2 separate regions of the Homo sapiens genome follow, and region 1 is linked to region 2. A link means that fine-mapping ties the variant in region 2 to the expression of a gene that starts in the linked region. Tissue or cell type: whole blood. Region 2 holds a variant in brackets; the other region holds the start of a gene. All regions are shown on one strand. Distances are between the middles of the regions.

What was found.
Region 1: PPIP5K2 starts here. The variant in region 2 is fine-mapped to the expression of PPIP5K2 in whole blood (TOPMed, PIP above 0.99).

The regions. Positions count from the first base shown.
Region 1 is chr5:103,117,297-103,122,685 of GRCh38, forward strand. It overlaps PPIP5K2 (diphosphoinositol pentakisphosphate kinase 2), which reads left to right and starts at 3,005. Exons shown (of 31, transcript NM_001276277.3): 1 at 3,005-3,192. GIN1 (gypsy retrotransposon integrase 1) reads right to left here and starts at 2,842. Exons shown (of 8, transcript NM_017676.2): 1 at 2,768-2,842. RefSeq lists enhancers at 1,978-2,479, 2,480-2,980, 2,816-3,075, 3,106-3,295, 3,346-3,405.
Region 2 is chr5:103,089,926-103,095,314 of GRCh38, forward strand. All of the region lies in intron 7 of GIN1 (gypsy retrotransposon integrase 1), which reads right to left. Among named protein-coding and RNA genes, the nearest start is that of GIN1, 28 kb to the right of the region's middle. The variant G/A (reference allele first, on the strand shown) is at 2,610.

The DNA.
Region 1 (5,389 bases), 27 kb after region 2:
TATTTTATATTTCTGTTTATATGACATCTGGAAAAGCCAAAAGTATAGGAAGAGGAAATAATTTTAAAAAATTAAAAATTTTAAAAACAATGCCAACGCAATTGCACTGCATAAGAATGTTTTGGTCAAGGATGGACTGCCTATTGGTCCCGTAAGATGATAGCAGAGCATATATAGAACCTGATATAGGTCATTTGATATTAGCACTGCAGATCAAGTAGGAGAAATAAATGATACCCAATAATGTGCAGGGACATTTGGTTCTCTATATGAAGAAAAAAATATACACACACACACACACACATATCATCTAGGTTCATGTAGGTAGAGTCTGTATTCGTGCAATGCTGAAACTGCCTAACAAAGCATTTCTCAGAATTTATTCCATTGCTAAGTGACTCACGACTACAGCTGCAAATAGTTATGCAGTATTTTACTATGATAATCCTCACAGTACTTCATGAAGTAGGTATTAGTTTTATATCCATTTTACAGGTAGGAAAATGGAGGTTCAGAGATTGTCCAATTTACTCAAGGTAATAAAGTGAGTACATGCGCTGACACTTTTAACTTGGTGTCTCTTACTTCAAATTTCACGCTTTTCCCCCCTGCTATACCAGTAAGTCAATTACTTGTTATCCTTAGCTTTTATAATACTTGGTTCAGGCCTCTGTTACACAAATTATAAAGTGATTTTTGTAATCAATAATTTAGATTATAAATGAGGAATGGAAAGAGTTTATTAATTTTTTATGTTTACATTGTTTAACATAATGTTCAGAACACAGTGGACACTCAACTATTTGTGAATGAATAAAGAATTACCTGCATTTCCTGAAAGGAGAATTAAAAATTATAGCAAATATTCCAGAGGTAAATTATTTCACTTTTGAAAACATTACAGTTCACTTTCACATACATGGCACTATAAGTAAACTGTGTCTAAGAAGGTATAGACTTAAGCCTTAGTATCTATGTTTGGAAAAGGACATAATATCTATCCCTTTTTTGCAATTACGAGGATGATTAAAAGTCCTTTGTATATGGTAATGTATAATTATTATCATATCTAAGTATTATCATCCATATCAGGCTGTTTAAAGTAACATAAAACCCTTTCTTTTCCCAAAATCTTCACCTACATGAAAAAATATTTTAAAATCTCTTTCCTTTCATTAATGGTGTTAATGTTTTATAGCAATGTTTATAAAGCTTCAGTGCTAAGAAGAAAATAATCAGAAGACTCACGAATTGTATCCTTTTATAACGATATAACAGTCTAATGCAGTTCACAAACTGCTGGTTCTGGAGGTAGAGAGACAGATGACAAGGAGAAATAGAAAATGCGTAAGAAAGAAAACTCAGTTCACGAAAAGCATAGCCTTTGAAGTAGTTAAAAGTTTTACTGCTAATAATTGGTATTCATATACAAAAGTAACGTAAATGAAAGTTGTTTTTTTTTTTTCAAAGCCCATACATATGAGAAAATGGCTTGAAACTGTAATATTCGAGACAAATATAAATATCTTCTTATACTCTGATTGCTAAGTAAAGGTATCATTTACAAGGGGGATTAAGTGGTTTCTACTACATAAAGAAAGACTGTCCTGGGACTTCTTTGGATATGCTCATATTTTCAAGAATTTCTCTTAAAATCATTACTTAATGTACTTAAACATGTAGGAATAAGAAAAAATGAAAGTGATTGATTACAACTTGTAGTTTTGCAAGAGGAATGTCAGGGTCACATTTGGTTAAGCTTTATACACTTTGTCCCCTCCATAAAAGCAAATAAAATCAACTCATTGCTTAATTCCTTTAATAATTTTGTGTTCAATAAAGTAAGGCAGTTAGGTATTATGTCAAGATTAGGACTTAACTGTTTCACCAAGGGTTAAAAACAAAGCCACCAATTTAAGCCCCTAAAAGGTTATAATACCCGCTGGTTCCATCTTAAAATCTGCAATTTTCAATCAACATGTTAACTTGGATCGGAATTCTGACATTTGAATTATTCTATTTTAAGCTCCAAAAAATGGACACGCACAATTTTATGCAACGTCAAGGACCTGTAAATTTAAATACACTTCTCTGTAATCTGGTTCACTTCAGAGTACAAATTCATTGAACAAAAAAATGCCTTCATCGCCATATGCATTCACATGAAGCCACATGGGATAAATGCATTTCCACTTTAAAAAGTATCTACTTTGGTTCAGAAATGCCCATTTAAGAAAAACCTACACTGAGATAAAGTGGACATTTTTCTTTTAAAACTACGTGACAGGATTCCCTCTTGACCTCACGTTTCTCCCCGCCACGTATTTAAATTTGGGGCAAAATTTCTGATTAAATGACTGATCAAAGTAATGGGGAGAATTCTTCAACGCCGGCCAAAAGTGCTTAGTCTCAAACGCTGTGAGGGAGCATTTCCTAAGCTTTGGGCGACTCGTTAACGGAATCTTAAGGGCAAGGTCCAACCACACTCAGAATCAGCAGGAAAATGACCGTTTGGTAAAACTCAATTACACCCAGTAGGCACCTCCCCAGGCCCGAAACAGCACTCGCCCTTTCTGCTCAGCTAGCGCGGGACATCGCAACGCCCAAGGCCCTCCTATCTCAAAGGCGCTTGCGCAAAATCTCCCCACAGACTCAATTAAACCCTTCCTTAGGCCGGTCGAGGCGAATGGTTTTGAAATTACTGTCGGGTTACGCCTCACTTTAAAAAACAGTAGGTATGACACAGCACACCAGAACGACCACTCACCGAGGTGGTCCTAAATTCAAACGACAGATTTAAGCTTCCTCTCGTGATTTATCTCGCGCTGCCGGAAGCGGAACTACCCGGGTCCTTTAGAGGGCAGTCCTTTGGGGAACCTTGGAACCACGGTCAGAAAGGTTAGGACTGATCATTTGGCTCTTGCCGGAAATCGTTCCGCCCGGTGAGGTTTCGGCGTGAGACCCGAGGAGGGCGGGGAAGAGGCGTGACGGAGATTCCTGAGGTGTAGTAGCCTGAGGTTCCCTTATGTGGCCCTATAGCTGTTACTGAAGGAAGTAGCCTACGTCCACGCCTACAACTGAAGTCTCTTGACAAACACCTCACCCCTGCCTCCGGGATGAAAGGGGGTAACCTAGACCTGAATGGGCTTGACCATCTCACAACTGCTCGCGTGACGACCGCATTCGTGGCAGGTGAGGGCCCAAAACCGGAGGAGAACCGGAGATGCGGAACCTGATCATGCCAGGGTTGAGGCGGCTGCTGGGCTTCTGCTTTGTCTCCTGTGCTCTGCAGACCCTAAACACATGCTCCACCGAGGGGCTTGTGCTGGAGAGAATGACAGCCTGGGCGTGGAGTGACAGTACAGCTTTGAGGGTCCTTTCGCGCCTTGATTTCTCCTCCTGCTCCCCCATGGCTTCCCTTTTTCATTTCTTGGGTTCGAGACGCCAGAAATTGAAGATCAGCTAAAAGGGAACCGCTGAGCTTCTACCCCACGCTGTGCCTGGCTCCACTGAAGTGATTAGCCTCGAGTTATGGGACTGCTGTGGGTAGAGGTGGCTTTTTAAAAAATTTTCTGCCTTAGTCTTTATCCCTCTCTCTGTCAACCCCACACCCACTTTAAAATAACAAAAGCCTCATGTGTTGCAGCTTTTCATAGTAGGGACCGAGGCTGCAGGGCACTGCCGCACCTAGTCATTTGGAGGTCGTTGCAGCCTTCTGCGCCTTGAAGAAGAAGGGGCCAGGGTGATGATCCCTGGATCTCATTCACGAGGTTCTTGACCACTTCCTGGGAGATTGCGACTCTTGGTGTCCTTTGGCTAGTAGTTGTCTTGCTGGAAGGCTTAACTGTGGAAGTGGGAAGCATAGCTGACCTTAGCACGTAAAATCCTCGCTCTACACTGGGACAGGATTTTGTTTTGCTATTGAGAATTCTTAAATGAAATAGATAATTTTTTTGTCTCAGATAGATAAAATAATAACGATAGTTGCCATTAACTGAGTCTTATGTGTGCCGAGTGCTTTACATAGTTTGTCATTTATTCCTCTCAACAATTCCAGGAGGTATGTTAGATTATTATCACCATTTTACAGAGTTAGAAATGGAGGCTTTGAACAGTCAAGCAACTTGCTCTATTAAACATTTGTTATAAGTAAACGTTTGAATCTGTGTTAAAAACCAGATCTGTCTGCCTTCAAAATCTGTATTCTATTGTCCTGTCCTGTTCTTCCTCGATTTCAATTTCTTCACTAACATTTTCAGTGTCTGAAAGTATCCATTCATTTAAAAAATTTTGGTGTACCTACTTATATGTCTGACAAAAGTTAGACATGATCTCTGTCTTTATGGAGCATTGTGATGCAGAATTAAGTAGTGCAGAACCCAGAATACTGTACTTACTGCAGCACAGGTTTATTTAAAGCAAATGACTAAACTGATTTGCAGAAAATTTTAAAATCAAAGGTTGCTGTTTTAAATGTTAAATTCATATGACTTTCAGAGTAGTTGTTGTGAGGGTATTAAACTGAACAATTGGTAGAACATCTGTTGATTACCCAAATAAGTGCTATGAACCAAGTTAAGTAGTGGGAATATATAGATTAGGTCCTCATTCTTTAAAAGCTCCCATGCAACCACAATATAGACAATGTTATGGACTATTAATTTTCTCACGTGGAAAAGGAATTGTGGTTATGTAGGAAGGTGTTCTTATTTTTAGCAGATACATACTAACGTACTTAGAGTTGAAGTGTGTTGATATCTAGTACTTTCAAATGGTACAGCAAGTGTATGTGTGTGTATGTGTCTGTGTGTATAAATAGCAAATATGGCAAAATGTTGGCAATTGTGAGTATAATGGTGGGCATATAGATGATTAACAAACTGTTCTTTCAACTTTTCCGAATATTTGAAATTTTTCATAATAAAAAGTTGGGGAGGAAAAAACCCAACCCTGATGGAAACAGATAAGTGAAAAGATAGATCCAAAATGCTGCGGAACATAGAAGATGGGAGAGGGTTTTTATGTGTATTTGGGGCCTAACAGAAGTGTGATAGTTCTCAGGAAAACCTTCACTGAAGACCTTTCAGTTGGTTTTTGAATGGCGGATAGGAACTTTCAAGGAGAGCAGTGAATTCCAGGCAGAAGGAAATGCAGGTTCAGCAAAAAGATATTAAATGAACGTTTGAAGAAGGAAAAAGAAATCAACAAGAAGGTTGTGTGGAACTTGGAATAGGCTTTTTTTGTGTAATCTTATAAATGAGCCAGGTTGCCTTTGCCAGCCTGCAGAAGCCTATTTATTCCCTATTACCTGGATGTACTATTGGTGGAAAGGAGACACCATTTATAACAGTGTTTCCATTGGAAAATGCTTTTGGAATTTCAGGAAAAC
Region 2 (5,389 bases):
TAAGTGGGCTTGGGCTTGTATGGCCATTTATTCTCCCATAATTCTGAAAGACAAAAAAAAATAAAATAAAATAAAAATCATGCAGCCAGGCAGTGGCTCATGCCTGTAATGCCAGCACTTTGGGAAACCAATGCGGGCAGATCACTTAAGGTTAGGAGTTCGAGACCAACCTGGCTAACACGGTGAAACCCCATCTCTACTAAAAATACATAAATTAGTCAGGCATGGTGGCATGTGCCTGTAATCCCAGCTACTGGGGAGGCTTAGGTGAGAGAATTGCTTGAACCCAGGAGGTGGAGGTTGCAGTAAGGCGAGATCGCACCATTGCACTCCAGCCTAGGTGACAGAGCGAGACTCTGTCTCAACAACAACAACGAAAATCATGCAACACATGAGATGTGTTATACCCAATAGCAGCAAGAGGGAAGAAAACATGATCAATAACATTGAAACACTTTCAGAATGTGTTGCTAGAGGTTTAACATCAAAGTTTGCAACTACCCTACTGTTAATACGAGAGAAGGCTAGGCGGTAGTTTATAAGAGAACATTAAAAGGTTAGATAGGGTAAACATGTTGCTGATGAAATTTTCTACTAAGTCATGGAGAATTCCATAGGTTCAAGGCCTGTACATTCCTACAAAGTTATCAGTGATGGCAGTTACCATAGGCATTTAAGAAATGCCCAAAGACTCTTTCAGAGGATTAATGAAGGAGGTTTTCTGTCTGTAAAAGTTTTTTCATACAGATGAAGTAGGACTACTTTAGAAAAATATGTCTAGTAAACATATGTCAATAGGGAAAAATATGCCTAGATGTAAAGCTCTTAGAAATTTTCATTTTAATTTGCTGAAATGGATTCAGAGACCTTGAACTTGAGTACCTCCTAGTTACACTGGTTAGAAACAAATGGACATACCAACCTCACTTGATTTTAAGAGAGCTTCTGTATGTAAGTAAAATAAGTCACACACGAACACACACACACACACACACACACACTCTTTTTCTTCTAAAAAAAGTTAACCTTTAAAGTAACTTATTGTAATAAAACTGTAGAGAACAAGGACTACACACAGCAAATTCTACATAAATCACTTTATACACATAGAAAACCACTCTGAATATGTCAAAGGCCTGTTTGTTTACAAAAAAAATTCTCATTCATTTGCAAAGGTCAAATATGTTTCAACTCCTACTATGGTCTAAATCTACTGGAGCTAAGAGAAATGCTCTTTAATTTCAGTAAAGAGATCAGAAAAGAGACTCTTGTGGCCTTACATGTTGAACAAGTAATATTTTGGATACACTGGATTATATAAAATATATTATTAAGGTTATTTTCATTTATTTCTGTACTTTTCAAAATGTGGCTATTAGAAAATTTTAAATTACATAGCTCTTGTATTATTATTCATCTATTGGACAACACTAATCTAAAACAATCATGAGTTAGGGATACAGAAAAGAATATGATTAAACTTTCTGCCCTCAAAACAGAGGCGGGGAGTAAGCAAACATATCATATTAAAGGTCTTTTCTAGTCAGCTACATTACACAGTACATTTCACTAAGTATTTATCTTTTCTCATTCCATTAATTTAGTTATGATTATGACATCTGTTTGATGAAAGCATCATTTTGGTTTTGACAAGACTGAATAAGTCTTTAGTTTCTTTGAAATTAAAATATTTTCAAGACATTTCAGGAAGGTATTAATCAGCAGTTTTGATATCCATTTCTAATGTAGGTTTTTTTTTTAAAGAGATGGGGTCTCAGCCAGGCATGGTGGCTCACGCCTATAATCCCAGGGGTCTCAGCCAGGCATGGTGGCTCACGCCTGTAATCCCAGTACTTTGGGAGGCCAAGGCGGGTGGATCACTTGATGTCAGGAGTTTGAGACCAGCCTGGCCAACATGGTGAAACCCCGTCTCTACTAAAAATACAAATATTAGCTGGGTGTGGAGGTGGGCGCCTGTAATCCCAGCTACTCAGGAGGCCGAGGTAGGAGAATTGCTTGAACCCAGGAGGCGGAGGTTGCAGGCAGCCAAGATCACACCATTGCACTCCAGCCTGTGTGATAATAGTTGAACTCCATCTCAAAAAAAAAAAAAGATGGGGTCTCACTCTGTCACTCAGGCTGGAGTGCAGCGGTGCAATGTTGGCTCATTGCAGCTCAGTCTCCCGGGCTCAAGTGATCCTCTGCCTCAGCCCGCTAAGTAGCTAAAACTAAAGGTGCGTATCACCATGCCCGGCTAATTTTTGTAGGGACGGGGTTTCACTATGTTGCCCATGCTGGTCTCGAACTCCTGAGCTCAGGCAATCCTACCTCGGCCTCTCAAAATGCTGGGATTACAGGCATAAGCCACTGTGCCCAGCCTTAATGTTGTTTTAAGGAATAAAAATAATAATTAAAAAATCAATTTTTAAATTTCCCTGAGAAAAATAAATACAAATTACAGCTTCAAAAAAGTCTGATTTAGATTAATGTATTTCTTCAATCAGAAAAAAAAAGATAAAGGTTTCAGACTACTTAATTTTCTTATTTTAAAGAGAAGTGACTAAACTAATCCTATATATGGTTTGATAATCCTCAAACTATTAGAATGT[G/A]CTGCCATACTAGTATATCCTTTCTCAAGATAAAATAATAACTATAACTTGATACTAAATCACTGTCATTATAATAACTAATACTGTCAACAGATAACTGAGTAACTATTGGTTAAGAAATTATATAACTGGACGGGCACAATGGCTCACACTTGTAATTCCAACACTTGGGAGGTCTAGGTGAGAGGACTGCTTGAGTCCAGGAGTTTGAGACCAACCTGGGCAACATAGTAAGACCCTGTCTCTATAAAAAACGAAAAACTCAGCCAGGCATGGTGATGCATGCCTACATTCCAAGCTACTTGGGAGGCTGATGTGGGAAGATTGCTTGAGCCCAGGAAGTCAAGGCTGCAGTGAGCTATTATTGTGCAACTGCACTCCAGCACGGGCAACCATGTAAGAACCTGTCTCAAAAAAAAAAAAAAAAAAAAAAAAGGAAAAAAGAGAAAGAAAAAAAAAAGATATAACTAAGAGGCCAAAAAAAGGCTCTCTGCATAAACTATATTAACGTCAAGATCATGGTCTTGACACTATAGGGACTGTGCTTTGCTTTGTTTCATGAATGCAGACCATAATTGTGGTAGGCAGCATAATAGGCCCCTAAAGATGTCAACATACTACTCCTTGGATCCTGTGAATATGTAATCTTACATGGTGAAGGAGAATTTAGGTAGTGATGGAATTAAGGTTGCTAATCAGATGACCTTAAAATAGGGGGATTATCCTGGACTTTTTGGGCAGGGCCAAGGTCAAGGGTCCTCAAATATAGAAGAGGGAGGCAGAAGAGGAGGTTGGAGTAAGGTGATGTAAGAAGGACTCAACCCACTATTGTTGGCTTTGAAGATAGAGGGACCACAAGCCAAGAAATGAAGGTAACCTCTAGAAGCTGGAAAAGACAAGAAAATGGATTATTTTCTAGAGCTTCCAGACAGGAACACAACAGTGCCAATACCTTGATTTTAGCCCAGTAAGATCTATGTTGAACTTCTAACCTTCAGAATTGTAATATAATAAATGTGTGTTGTTTTAAACCATTAAATCTGTAGTAATTTGTTACAGCAACAAGAGGAAACTTATACAATAATGAAAATGGTTTCACAAATGGGGCTTTCAACTGTGAAGGGAAATCAGGCTAAAACCTTGGGTGAGGCAGATCCAAATCTATCACAAACAAAATAAATTCAAAACTGTGCAAAATCTATGTCAGATTATTTTTTCCTTTCAAAGAGGAGCATTATGATTACAAAAAGACACTATGGTATTTTAAGATTTCTTGGTCTAAATAGTCTGAAAAAGCGCTTGGCAATGAACTAGACAAAAAAACAAACAGGCCTGCTTAAAATAGCAATGAAAAATATTGTATACCTAGTACTGAATGTGCTCACTCTACATTTAGTTCTAGATAAGAATGGATAAGAAGTTGGCAATAGAAGTATATCTACTTTAGACAGTGAGTTTTTAACAGAGCTATGAAATTTCAAGGCTAGCAAAGAGCAGCAATGACAAATGTGGACAAATAAATTTATAGTTCTTTTGGCTATAGCATGTCAAAATTTATGTCAAATAAAAACTTCAATGATTAGTCAAAATCATTTTGTTTGCTTTAATTCAGCTCAAGGACTCTTTCAAATCAACTTGTGAGGTGATTTTCAAGAAAATCATGGAAAAGATTTTCAAGAAAGTATGTAATATTGAGGAAAAAGATGGCAGAAATCACATTTACTTTTAATTTCTACAAATGAGAAAAATGTAAAAAAAGGATCAAGCAATAAGAACCAGATTCTAGGATGGCCAGATCAGTAGTTCCTTTAGTTAACAAGAAAAACTAAAACAGACTCATCTAATTAGTCTTAAATTCCTTATGCATACACCAGTAGTCATATTGCAATATTATTTGTCCTTATATTACTGGAAGAATCTTGTGCAAAGAATTCAAGTATGAGGCAAATATTATACTGCCTCTGTTTAGAGACTGTTCTCAAACAGAGAAGATGAGTTCTGAAATACTGAGTTCTGAATGTTCAGAAGAAGCACAATATTTGACTTCTTTTCTGAGAAACTCTTTGACAAGAACAAATTACAAAATGTTGATAGATCCTGGTTTAGCAAAATTTTAAATTAAATTTTGTATTAAAGAAGCTTAACACTTTAGAAGAGAGCAAATCATGAATGTCAAAGATTAAGGGGAAAATCATGCTAAAGAAGCTAGAACAACATATACTTGTATAACCTTTTTTTTCCCTACTTAACTTGCAGAAGAGAGAGATCATTAAAGGTAGCTCAGAACTGAGAAGAGGTACAAACAATGCAAGCTTTTATCTTCTAACAAAGAGAACGAAAGCACTTGTGAGTTTTCAGGATTAGAATGTAGTTCAAGATAAGTTTACTGACTAAACAACTCGGTCTGTCACAAGAAGGAAAGGTACTAAGAGGTTTTAACATGAGTGTTGTAACCCAGATTAGAAGCAGAGTTGAGCTATCATTACTAAGCAGCCCACATGGGCTTTAGAACTCAAGAAAAGGCATAGGGTAAGTGTAGGTTATTTGTTGTTGTTACTCTTTTTGTTATTAATATTTGCTAAAGCCTGTCATATAACTTGTTTATATTGTTATAAATATATTTTCCATTAAATGTTACTTATATCCAAATAATATTAATGTTTCACCTGGCTAAGTTACTCATTAACTCTCTCTCAGTTATCCACCTCAGAGAAGATCTAGGAAGCAGACACATTAGGACAAAATAAAAGCCTTGATAAAGTGGGGAACATAATCTAAAA